Regions from separate parts of the Homo sapiens genome. Here region 2 is linked to region 1. Evidence: fine-mapped expression QTL. A gene starts in region 1. The other region holds a variant in brackets. All regions are shown on one strand. Distances are from middle to middle.

Region 1 (5,374 bases):
GGCTAATTTTTGTATATTTTGTAGAAATGGGGTCTCACTGTGTTGCCCGGGCTGATCTACAACTCCTGGACACAAGCAATCCTCCTGCCTTGGCCCCCCAAAGTGCTGAGATTATAGGCATGAGCCATCACACCCAGCAAATTTTAACTTTTACCTCTTCCCTCAACTTTGGAGAATGATTAATTTTCCAGACTCTCAGACCCAATCGGAGGGATTTTTTTCTAAAAATGAAACCAAATATAATCCCAGCTCACTGTACTCCCTACTTTGTAGCTCCACACTGTCCAGAGATGGCAGTCTCTTCTCCCTGTCCAGACATGGCCTCACCTTTGTAAAACACACCCCAAACACCCTTCTTCTCTGATAGCAGCCAGGTTTTGAGACGAGGTACTTTCTTGAAGTAGGCACAGGTGCAAACAAAGAGCAAACCAAACACCAGAATCCCATCCAAGGAGTACACTGTTAAATAAAGAAGAAAAGAAAACCTTAGGTACTGATCTAGCGTCGGACCTGTGATCCCGCCTGAGAACTCTAAGGAAGATAGTGTGTGACATAATAACAAAATAATAACCTCAACAGGCAGTACTGACACTTGACAAGGGGGAGCCAGGATCCTGGGACTAACACGATTATTTTACTGTTCCCAAAAATTGCTTGTAGGAGGAAGGGGGATCAATTGAGCCCAGGAGTTCGAGGCTGCAATGAACTACGATCATGCCACTGCACTGTAGCCTGAGCAACAGAGTGAGACCCCAACTCAAAAAAAAATTTTTTTTTTTACATCCCCTTTACTAAAATGTCACTGGTCCTTCCCCTCACCTTTCAAGAAGTAGAAATCCTGGGCAGAAATTAGCATCCCAGGAATGACTAGTGTTGGCAATAGATTGAGACATATGAATCCTTAGAGACTCAGCACAGAGAATTTAACATGTTCTTGTTATAAATCACTCATATGATAAAGGAGAGCTAGATATGTAGCCAAAACTGTCAGATGTGCAACTGTTGGTGAAGAATATGTTAAGGCAAAAAATTAAGCTTAATGAAAGTTGCAAGAGTAAGAATCCACATGACTACAATTTTCCTATCATTATCTTACACTTTATGGATGATACTCTTAACAAACCGAATTTCTGCCAGAATAATAACAGATTTTTCTAAAACAAAGAAAAAGTATCTAAGGCTTCAACATAGAAAGCTTTAACTTCTTAGCTCTGTTTCTTAAATACATAAACCAAGCTTATTTCTTGTACAGGGAAGCACAATGAATCACCTAATTGCAAAAAACAAGAAGATATTGGACCACAAAATGGGGGAAGAATGACTAAAATTTATTCAGCAACTACCGTGTCAAACTGCTGTCTTACTTCCTGGTTCAGATTCTGTCTTCCTCTGGGTAAATTCCCTTTTCTTACTGTGCCTAGTATCCTGAGACCTCTGACTTCCCAGGAAGCTCCAAATGAATATTATATATAACCAGTGTCTGCCAGTTCTAGATCACACTACCTCTCTTCCTCCAGTAAAACTGTCTCACAGCTAAGCTGTCACTAAGAAAGGGTCCAGCAAATTAATACATACACTAAGGTTTTCTGAGGAACTATACCTTCACGTGCTACCCCTTTTCTCTCATAAGTTTCTGCAGACAATGCCAAAATTCACAAGGAGGTTAAATTCGAGTCTTCAGTGCCAGGTCTATGGACAAAGTACTTTTGAGAAATGCTTTCCGGAGCCCCTCAAATCATCGTAATGCCTAAAAGGCTTTCTCTTCTCCTTTCCTGTAAGGTTGACACTAAAAATCATGAAGGCCCTCCTTCCTGTCCTCCTCTGGAATTCAGAATTCATAAAGTGTTTGAAGAGGCCTGGAAAATTAGGTCAGATAAACTGCCTCATCATCTAGAAGAGGCAGTGTCTAAATCCACCCTTTGCAACACTAGTCAGGGTCTCCACGTGGGATCACCCCGCCAGGACTTTAAAATCAGAAATCTTTCCGGTATTTTTCCGTAAGAAGAAGCTTTTGTGGGGTCTACATTCACCAGCAACCCCAAAAGTGTGGGACTTGATATTCTATGTCATTTATTGGCCCTCTCAACAAAACTACGGTCCGAAAGCATGAGAACGCAGGGAGCTGGGAGGAGGAGCCTCTCTCTTCCCCGGGTTTAAATAGCAGTAGTACCTCTGGGACTGACCTCTCCAAGGGCCAGAAAGAACTAAGAAAAAGAAAAGGGAAAGCAAAGCATAGGGATAGATAACTCGAGGTGTGAGCATAAGAGGCACTGGGGGTCCTAGATGAATATGGGAAGGGGGAACCCGTAGAGGAGTATAGGGGTACAGAAGTTAGGGGCGTCGAGAGGCCAAGGGGGGCCGGGCTGGGAGGGGGCGGGGAGAACGGCCACGTCAGTCCCGGCCCCGCCCGCCACGTTTTCCCTTCGTCCTTCACTCCCACCCTCCGCTCAGGGCATCAGTTCTCACCGTTCGTCATGGCGGCTGGCCCTGGACCTGGGTAGGGGGTCCGGGTTCAGTGGTAATAGCGGCGGAGATGGGGGAGCGCCCGCTTGACACTTCCCGATCCGGGCCGAGGTGACTGGAAGAAGCCGTAGTACGCAGGAGCAAGGGCCGAGAGGCGAGCGCCGAACGCTATCAGGAGTGGCTAGCCGATTGTCGAGCTCGGGAAACTGCGTGTTTACGTAGGGTAAGAAGAACGCTATCTCGAAGGCTTCGTACTTGGCCGTGGTAACTAAGTCTTTTCTGCGTGCCCCTGCGGGCGTAGGGCTGGGGCTGGCCCGCGTCAGTGTGTTTGAAAAGGTAAAGGCTTGTAGTTTTGTAGTTTATTTTGCGCCGTGGCGGCTGCTGTGTGTAAGCAGCAGCCTACCTATGAGGTTTTCATCGTCCTGGGCTTCCACTTGAGAGAACTCCAGCACCGCGGGTGAAGAAGCCGCACCTGCGGCCTCCGTGACTGCCCTTGAGCTGCTCTTCCTTACTCCGGATGGAAATCTAGTCAGACTGCGTCTGAACGTTGCAAATGAAATGAGGAACCTTGTAACAAAAACAAGTCGCGGCCGGGCGCGGTGGTTCACGCCTGTAATCCCAGCACTTTGGGAGGCCGAGCCAGGCGGATCACCTGAGGTCGGAGTTCGAGACCAGCCTGACCAACAAGGAGAAACCCCGTCTCTACTAAACATACAAAATTAGCCGGGCGCGGTGGCTCATGCCTGTAATCTAAGCACTTTAGGAGGCCGAGGCAGGCGGATCACCTGAGATCGTAGTTCGAGACCAGCCTGACCAACATGGAGAAACCCCGTCTCTACTACAAATACAAAATTAGCCGGGCATGGTGGCTCATGCCTGTAATGTAATCCCAGCTACTCGGGAGGCCGAGGCAGGAGAATCGCTTGAACCTGGGAGGCGGAGGTTGCGGTGAGCCGAGATCGCGCCATTGCACTCCAGCCTGGGCAACAAGAGCGGAAACTCCGTCTCAAAAACAACAACAACAACAACAACAACAACAAAAACCAAGTCGCATCTTTCAGATCCTAAAGCACCACGTCGTCGGAAAACATTCAAAGGGTTGCCCGTTTGCTTGTGTGAATTTTTCTTTTCCTTAAACTATCAGGAGAATCTCGATTCTCCTGCATTTAATTAATGCTGGGATCACTTCAGCCACTTTAACCAGAAATCGGCGATATCTAGACACCGCTTCTCTGAGGACACTTTGACAACGTGACAAAAGACATTGCCAGTCTAATGATGGGGGTGGGGTGGAGGAGACAAAAGTACAGATTCAGATTTGCATACTGAAATCCTTAATTGCACACAACTCGGCCCGCTTTATTAGAGTTCGGGCGGAAGTGCGACACCGAGTCCTCCAAGGCTAACTGGAGGGTTAAATTATACGGTTACTAATCCGCCGTGCTTGTCAAGGGCCTAAAGGGACTCTGCCCCTTTCTGCTGCAGTGCCATCTGCTGGCTGCAGCCTGCTTGGTTACCCAGAGGGAAAACTGCCAAAGCATCCTCTGGAAGCTGGCCTGGAAAGACAAGCCAAAGTCTAGTGCAGGACAGATGCCTTGAGAAAATATACATACATGCAGAAAGAAAAAAAAAAAAAGACGGCGTATATACGGGACAAAACCTAGGACAAGGCCAGGCAGCCACTCAGATTATATATATGTTTGCACATTCACACACAGACAAATTCCCCTGCCCAAAAGAACTGTTCAGGACCACTCAAAAACAAAACAGAACAAAAGCTCTATTGTTTAGGCCTTCGAATCCTTCATCAACCATTGTCTAAAACAGCAGCAGCTGGCCGGGCGCGGCTCACGCCTGTAATCCCAGCACTTTGGGAGGCCGAGGCAGGCGGATTACCTGAGGTCAGGAGTTCAAGACCACCCTGACCACATGGTGAAACCCCGTCTCTACTTAAAAAAAAAAAAAGAAAAAAGAAAAAAAGAAATACAGAAATTAGCCTGGCATGGTGGCGTGCGCCTGTAATCCCAGCTACTCGGAAGGCAGAGGCAGGAGAATAGCTTGAACCCGGGAGGGAGAGGTTGCAGTGAGCCGAGACAGCACCACTGCCCTCCAGCCTGGGCGACAGAGCGAGACTCCATTTCAAATAATAATAATAATAATAATAACTGCCCCCCTTTGGCCGGGCGCGGTTGCTCACGCCTGTAATTCCAGCACTTTGGGAGGCCGAGGTGGGCGGATCACCTGAGGTCGGGAGTTCGAGACCAGCCTGACCAACATGGAGAAACCCCGTCTCTACTAAAAATACAAAAGTAGCCGGGCATGGTGGCACATGCCTGTAATCCCAGCTACTTGGGAGGCTGAGGCAGGAGAATCGCTTGAACTGGGGAGGCAGAGGTTGCGGTGAGCTGAGATCCTGCCATAGCACGCTAGCCTGGGCAACAGTGAAACTACGTCTCAAAAAAAACAAAGAAAAGAAAAAAAATTGCCCCTCTTGTAATCCTACAGCCATCACCTTAGTAATTTTGCTATATCGGTAGTCTTTAAGTATCAATTATGTCCTCACAACAATGAAAACTTACATTTTTATAACATTTTGACATTTTCAAAGCAAACACACCTTGTCATATGATCTTATTTAACCCTCACAACTGCCTGATTACCCCTGTTTTAGAAATAAACCAAGGTTTAGGGTAAGGACTGCCAAGTATTACACTGGCACAATAATTCCAGCCTTCTGAAATCAGGACTAGAAAATTTTCCTCCATACCACACTGGTGTTTCCTTTGACAGCAACCACTACCTACTGAATAATGCCTAAGTCCTTAGCCTGCTACTCAAGGCCTTCCAATAGTATTTTCCACTGTTCCCTATATGGGCTTTAAGCTTTGTCTATAAAGACTATGTTCTTCAG
Region 2 (5,374 bases), 30 kb before region 1:
AATGAAATGTTTACAATGAGCTTAACCAATTATGAAATTCTGGGTAAGTTTCTTGGTCCTTTTTGCATTCTGTATTTCTTGAATTATTAGAATAAGAGAGTATAATTGTTGCAAAAACAATAAGATTATTTTAAAATAGTATTCAATAAGCCAAAAGGGAATAGAGAAATTTAAAGTTCATCTCATTCAAATCAACACTTTGTATGCTTTTCCTTGACTATGCAATTTGACTATGGTGCTGTAGTTTTCTTGCTGCATTCCCAAAGCAGTGATCTATACCAACAGATACGGTGATTAAAAATATTCATATGTCGTCTTTATAGAAAGATGCTGAAAGTATATAAAAGATCTTGTGGCATACTGTAAAGTAGGTATCTTTGTAATAATCTCTCATATCCTTTACTTTTCTTTCCTAGTAATTAGCCACATTTATAACTATAGGTCCATTGGAGTGGTTGGTTATTTGTATCAACTCTGCTTTTCCTAGTGGTATGCTTCAAAAATGGCAACATATTCTTCCCATCCCCCATATGTATGCCCCTACATAATGACTTTGCAGGGGCTCCCAACAGCCTGTCAATGTCAGACCTCTGGGTGAAGCATTTTAGGTAATCTGGCTTGCAGTCAATCTACCAGCTGACCAGTCACACAAGGGAGCCCAGCATAGATCAGCCACGCTGCCCTAGCCCAGTCAAACTACAGGATTGTGGGCTAAACAAGGGGTCCTGTTTAAGACAATAAGCCTCAGGGTGGATTGTTATACAGCAAAAGCTAACTAATACAGATCCCCCTACCTTTTTTGTGAGACAGGGTCTTACTCTGGTGCCATCATGGCTCACTGCAACCTCAACCTCCTGGGTTCAAATGGTCCTCCTACCTTAGCCTCCCAAGTAGCTGGGACCACAGGGGCACACCATCATGCCCAGCTAATTTTTGTATTTTTAGTAGAGATGGGGTTTCACCATGTTGCCCAGGCTGGTCTCAAACCCCTGAGCTCAAGTGATCTGCCCACCTTGGCCTCCCAAAGTGCTGGGATTACAGGTGTCAGCCACTGCACCCAGTCTCTTTTTTTTTTTAAAGAGAGAGTCCCACTGTGTTGCCCATGCTGGAGAGTAGTGGCTTGATCACGGCTCACTGTAATCTTTAACTCATGGGTTCAAGTGAACCTCCCACCTCAGTCTCCCTAGTGTCTGGGTCTACAGGCGTGGGCCACCACACATAGCTAATTTTTAAAACTGTTTTGTAAAGTTGGGGTCTTGCTATGTTGCCCAGGCTGGTCCTGAACTCCTGGGCTCAAGCAATCTGCTGGCCATGGCCTCCCAAAGTACTGGGATTACCGGGACGAGCCACTACATCCTGCCTTTTTTTTTTTTTTTTTTTTAATGGAAAGGTTATCTGAAGCTGGGCACAGTGGCTCACGCCTGTAATCCCAGCACTTTGAGAGGCGGAGGCAGGTAGATCACTTGAGGTTGGGAGTTCAACACCAACCAGCCTGGCCAACATGGCAGAGTGTGGTGGTGCACGCTTGTAATCCCAGCTATTCGGGAGGATGAGGCATGGGAATCGCTTGAACCCGACAGGCACAGGCTGCAGTGAGCTGAGATTGCACCGCTGTACTCTGGCCTGAGTGACAGAGCAAGACTCTGTCTCAAAAAAAAAAAAAAAGAGCCAGCTGTGGTGGCTCATGCCTGTAATCCCAGCACTTTGGGAGGCCAAGGTGGGCGGATCACAAGGTCAGGAGTTTGAGATCAGCCTAGCCAATATGATGTAACCCTGTCTCTACCCAAAATACAAAAATGAGCCGGGCGTGGTGACGGGTGCCTGTAATCCCAGCTACTCAGGAGGCTGAGGCAGGAGAATTGCTTGAACCCGGGAAGCAGAGGTTGCAGTGAGCTGAGATCATGCCACTGCACTCCAGCCTGGGTGACAGAGAGAGACTCTGTCTCAAAAAAAAAAAAAAAAAAGTAATACACAGGCAAAGAAGACCTCCATTATTGGGCCACTGGAGTATGAAAGATCCATATTTGCAGAAATTGTCTAAATTTCACAAGGCTAGATAGTTCTTGGTAATGTTCTTTTGTCAGAGTTTAGTCCCTCCAGTGTCTAAGGCAGCATTACCCCTCTTTTCAGGATTCATCCTGAATGTAAAGGGAAACTCTAAAGTGTGACTGAGGCAGGAGAATCCTTTGAGGCCACGAGTTCAAGGCTGTTACTTCCATATTCCCTTTTGGCCTATTGAATACTATTTTAAAATAACCTTATTGCTTTTATAACAATGATACTTTCTTAATGTAATAATTCAAAAGCTAGGCACAGTGGCTCACGCACTTTGGGAGGCTGAGGGGGGTGGATCACCCGAGGTCAAGAGTTCGAGACCAGTGTAGCCAACATGGTGAAACACCATCTCTACTAAAAATACAAAAATTAGCCGGGAGTGATGGCAGATGCCTGTAATCCCAGCTACTTGGGAGGCTGAGGCAGGAGAATCCCTTGAACCTGGGAGGCGGAGGTTGCAGTGAGCCGAGATCACGCCACTGGACTCCAGCCTGGACAACAAGAAGGAAACTCCATCTCAAAAAAAATTGAAAAAAAATTCAAGAAATACAGAATGCAAAAAGGGACCAAAAAAGTACCAAAAATTTCAAAATTTTGTAAACTGTACCAAATCTGGATACGAAGC[G/A]TTATTTTTGCCCACAGGGCACTTCCCTGAAAGACGTTACAATAGCTAAGACTCCTCTCAGATAGAATAGAGAGCAGTAGATAGCTCTTATTGAGTGACATTTCTGTTTTACCCTAAGATGTTACCTACCTTGACACCTTAAGATGCTACTAATTTCCAGAAGCCTGGCCCTAGAAGTTGCTTTCACCTGGACTCTATTTAGTGAGTGATCTGAATGAGAATTCATCTGTCCAGTTTCCAAAATAGAAGAAAACTCATCCCACCTGCGACACATCAGATTACAAAACTGAAAACTGAAGAAAGCTGTAAAAGTCTAGGTAAACACGACCCCCAAGAGCTCTGAAGAAACAGCATTACTTGTGAAGAGAGAGTGTCCCCACAGTTAAGCCCTAACTTGGTATGTCTGGGGCTAAAGTGACTGCCTAGTCTGTTTGGTCTGCTATAACAAAATACCATAGACTAGGTAATTTATAAACAATGGATATTGATTGCTCACAGCTCTGGAGGCTGGGAAGTCCAAGATCAAGGCACCAGCAGATTAGGCGTCCGGTGAGGGCCCATTCCTCAGAGATGGTGCTGTCTACGTGTCCTCATATAGTGGAGGGGGCAAAAATACAGGCCTCTTGTATTTATTTTATTTTATTTTATTTTATTTTATTTTAAGACAGAGTCTTGCTCTGTCACGCAGGCTGGAGTACAGTGGCGTGATCTTGGCTTGCTGCAACCTCTGCCTCCTGGGTTCAAGCAATTCTCGTGTCTCAGCCTCCCAAGTAGCTGGAATTACAGGCATGCACCACCACACCAGCTAGGTTTTGCATTTTTTGTAGAGACAGGGTTTCAACATGTTGGCCAGGCTGGTCTTGAACTCCTGGCCTCAAGCGATCAGCCTGCCTCGGCCTCCCAAAATGCTGGGATTACAGGCATGAGCCATGGTGCCCAGCCCCTCAGGCCTCTTTTATAAGTGCACTAATCCCATAGGATATAATCACCTCCCAAAGGCCCCACCTCTTAATACCATTGCATTGAGGATTAGGTATCAATGTATGAATTTAGGGGGGACACAAACATCAGACCATAGTGGTGACTAAGGTCCTTAATAGAATCCCAATCTCTGGAGTCACTGAAGAATAAATTATGATTAATTCACTCACTTCAGAAAACAATTTGGCATTCTCCTGTAAAGATGAATCTATACACAACCCACAACCCAGCACCCCACTCCTAGGCTTATACCTTCAAGAAACGTGTACCTGCACACCAGAAGACAGGTTCAAAAATGTCCATAGCAGCATTGTTTGAAATAGCAAAACAATGGAAACCCAAATGTCTATTAACAGGAAAACTAATTTTTAAATCGTGGAATATTCACCAAAGGAGTATTTTACAACACCGAAAATGCACAAAATATAGTAACATACAATAACGTAGATGAGTTTAGAAGCTTAGTGTTGAGTTAGAAAAGCAAATGTTATAACTCTATATACAATGCAATATATTTTTACAAAGGTCAAAAATAAACAGATCTAAATAAGATTGTTTAGAGAGACATACATGTGAAAAAAAAAAAAAAAGCAGGCTGAGTGCGGTGGCTCACACCTGTAATTCCAGCAATTTGGGAGGCCGAGGCAGGCAGATCACTAGAGCTCACGAGTTTGAGACCAGCCTGGGCAACATGGAGAAACCCTGTCTCTCCAAAACTACAAAAATTATCAGGGCATGGTGGTGCACACCTGTAATCCCAACTGAGATGGGAGGATGGCTTGAGCCTGGGAGGGGGAGGTTGCAGTGAGCTGAGATGGCACCACCACATTCCAGCCTTCAGAGTAGAGCCAGATCTTGTCTCAAAAAAAAAAAAAAATTAGGCCAGGTGTGGTGGCTCACTCCTGTAATGCCAGCACTTTGGGAGGCCGAGGCGGGCAGATCGCCTGAGGTCAGGAGTTCAAGACCAGCCTGGCCAACATGATGAAATCCCATCTCTAATAAAAATACAAAATTAGCTGGGCATGGTGGCGGGCACCTGTAATCCCAGCTACTTGGGAGGCTGAGGCAGGAGAATTGCTTGAGCCCAGAAGGCGGAGGTTGCAGTGAGCAGAGATCACACCATTGTGCTTCAGCCTGGGCATCAGAGCGAGACTCCGTCTCAAAAAAAAAAAAAAAGAAGAACCAAATACAGGAGGAAACAGAAAAGCCTAGACACTGTGCTCACAAAGTGAAGTAGCGTGCCAAAGGCTCAGGACTTTCTCCCCTGACTACAGGGGCTGATCCCAGGGACATCAGAACTAAGAACAGGGAACACTCTGCTCCCTAAAGCTGTTCTTTCTGCATTTTGGATAGTAACTCCTACCATTCTCCCACTCCAAAATCCTTACAAAAATCCTTGACCCGCCCGTCACCATCACCCTACACCATCAATCAGTTGCCAAATCCTCTAACCTCCACCGTCAGCATGTTTTTCACACAGACGCCTTTCCATGTATTCCACTGCCCCCATCCCAGTGCAGTCCCTTTATTAACCTCCTCCTTGACTTCAGTAATATCTTCAGTATTGGTCTCCTTGCCTCATCTCTCTGCTCTCATCTGTTGGCCCACCTCAACCATGCTTACTTTATATTCATGCTAATCCATTCTGCTTAGGCTGCTATCTCTGCCAGAAATCCTTCAGGGATTCTCCACTTAGTTTAGAATTTTTCAACC

Direction of the effects. Alleles are on the strand shown, and positions count from the first base shown. SD is a standard deviation of normalised expression in the study named.
For the expression in whole blood of the gene that starts at base 2,585 in region 1, A is the high allele of the variant in region 2 and G is the other (moderate effect, 0.45 SD a copy in GTEx).

Evidence for each region. PIP is the estimated chance that this variant, and not a neighbour inherited with it, causes the effect.
Region 2: its variant is the best candidate, but not a certain one, in a credible set for the expression of TMEM167B in whole blood (GTEx, PIP 0.54).

Annotation. Positions count from the first base shown.
Region 1 is chr1:109,087,975-109,093,348 of GRCh38, reverse strand. TMEM167B (transmembrane protein 167B) reads right to left here and starts at 2,585. Exons shown (of 3, transcript NM_020141.4): 1 at 2,467-2,585; 2 at 328-459. The coding sequence starts at 2,476. It also overlaps the pseudogene NDUFB3P1. RefSeq lists an enhancer at 2,752-2,951.
Region 2 is chr1:109,118,364-109,123,737 of GRCh38, reverse strand. The region is part of intron 1 of ELAPOR1 (endosome-lysosome associated apoptosis and autophagy regulator 1); the gene reads right to left. Among named protein-coding and RNA genes, the nearest start is that of ELAPOR1, 6.9 kb to the right of the region's middle. The variant G/A (reference allele first, on the strand shown) is at 2,681.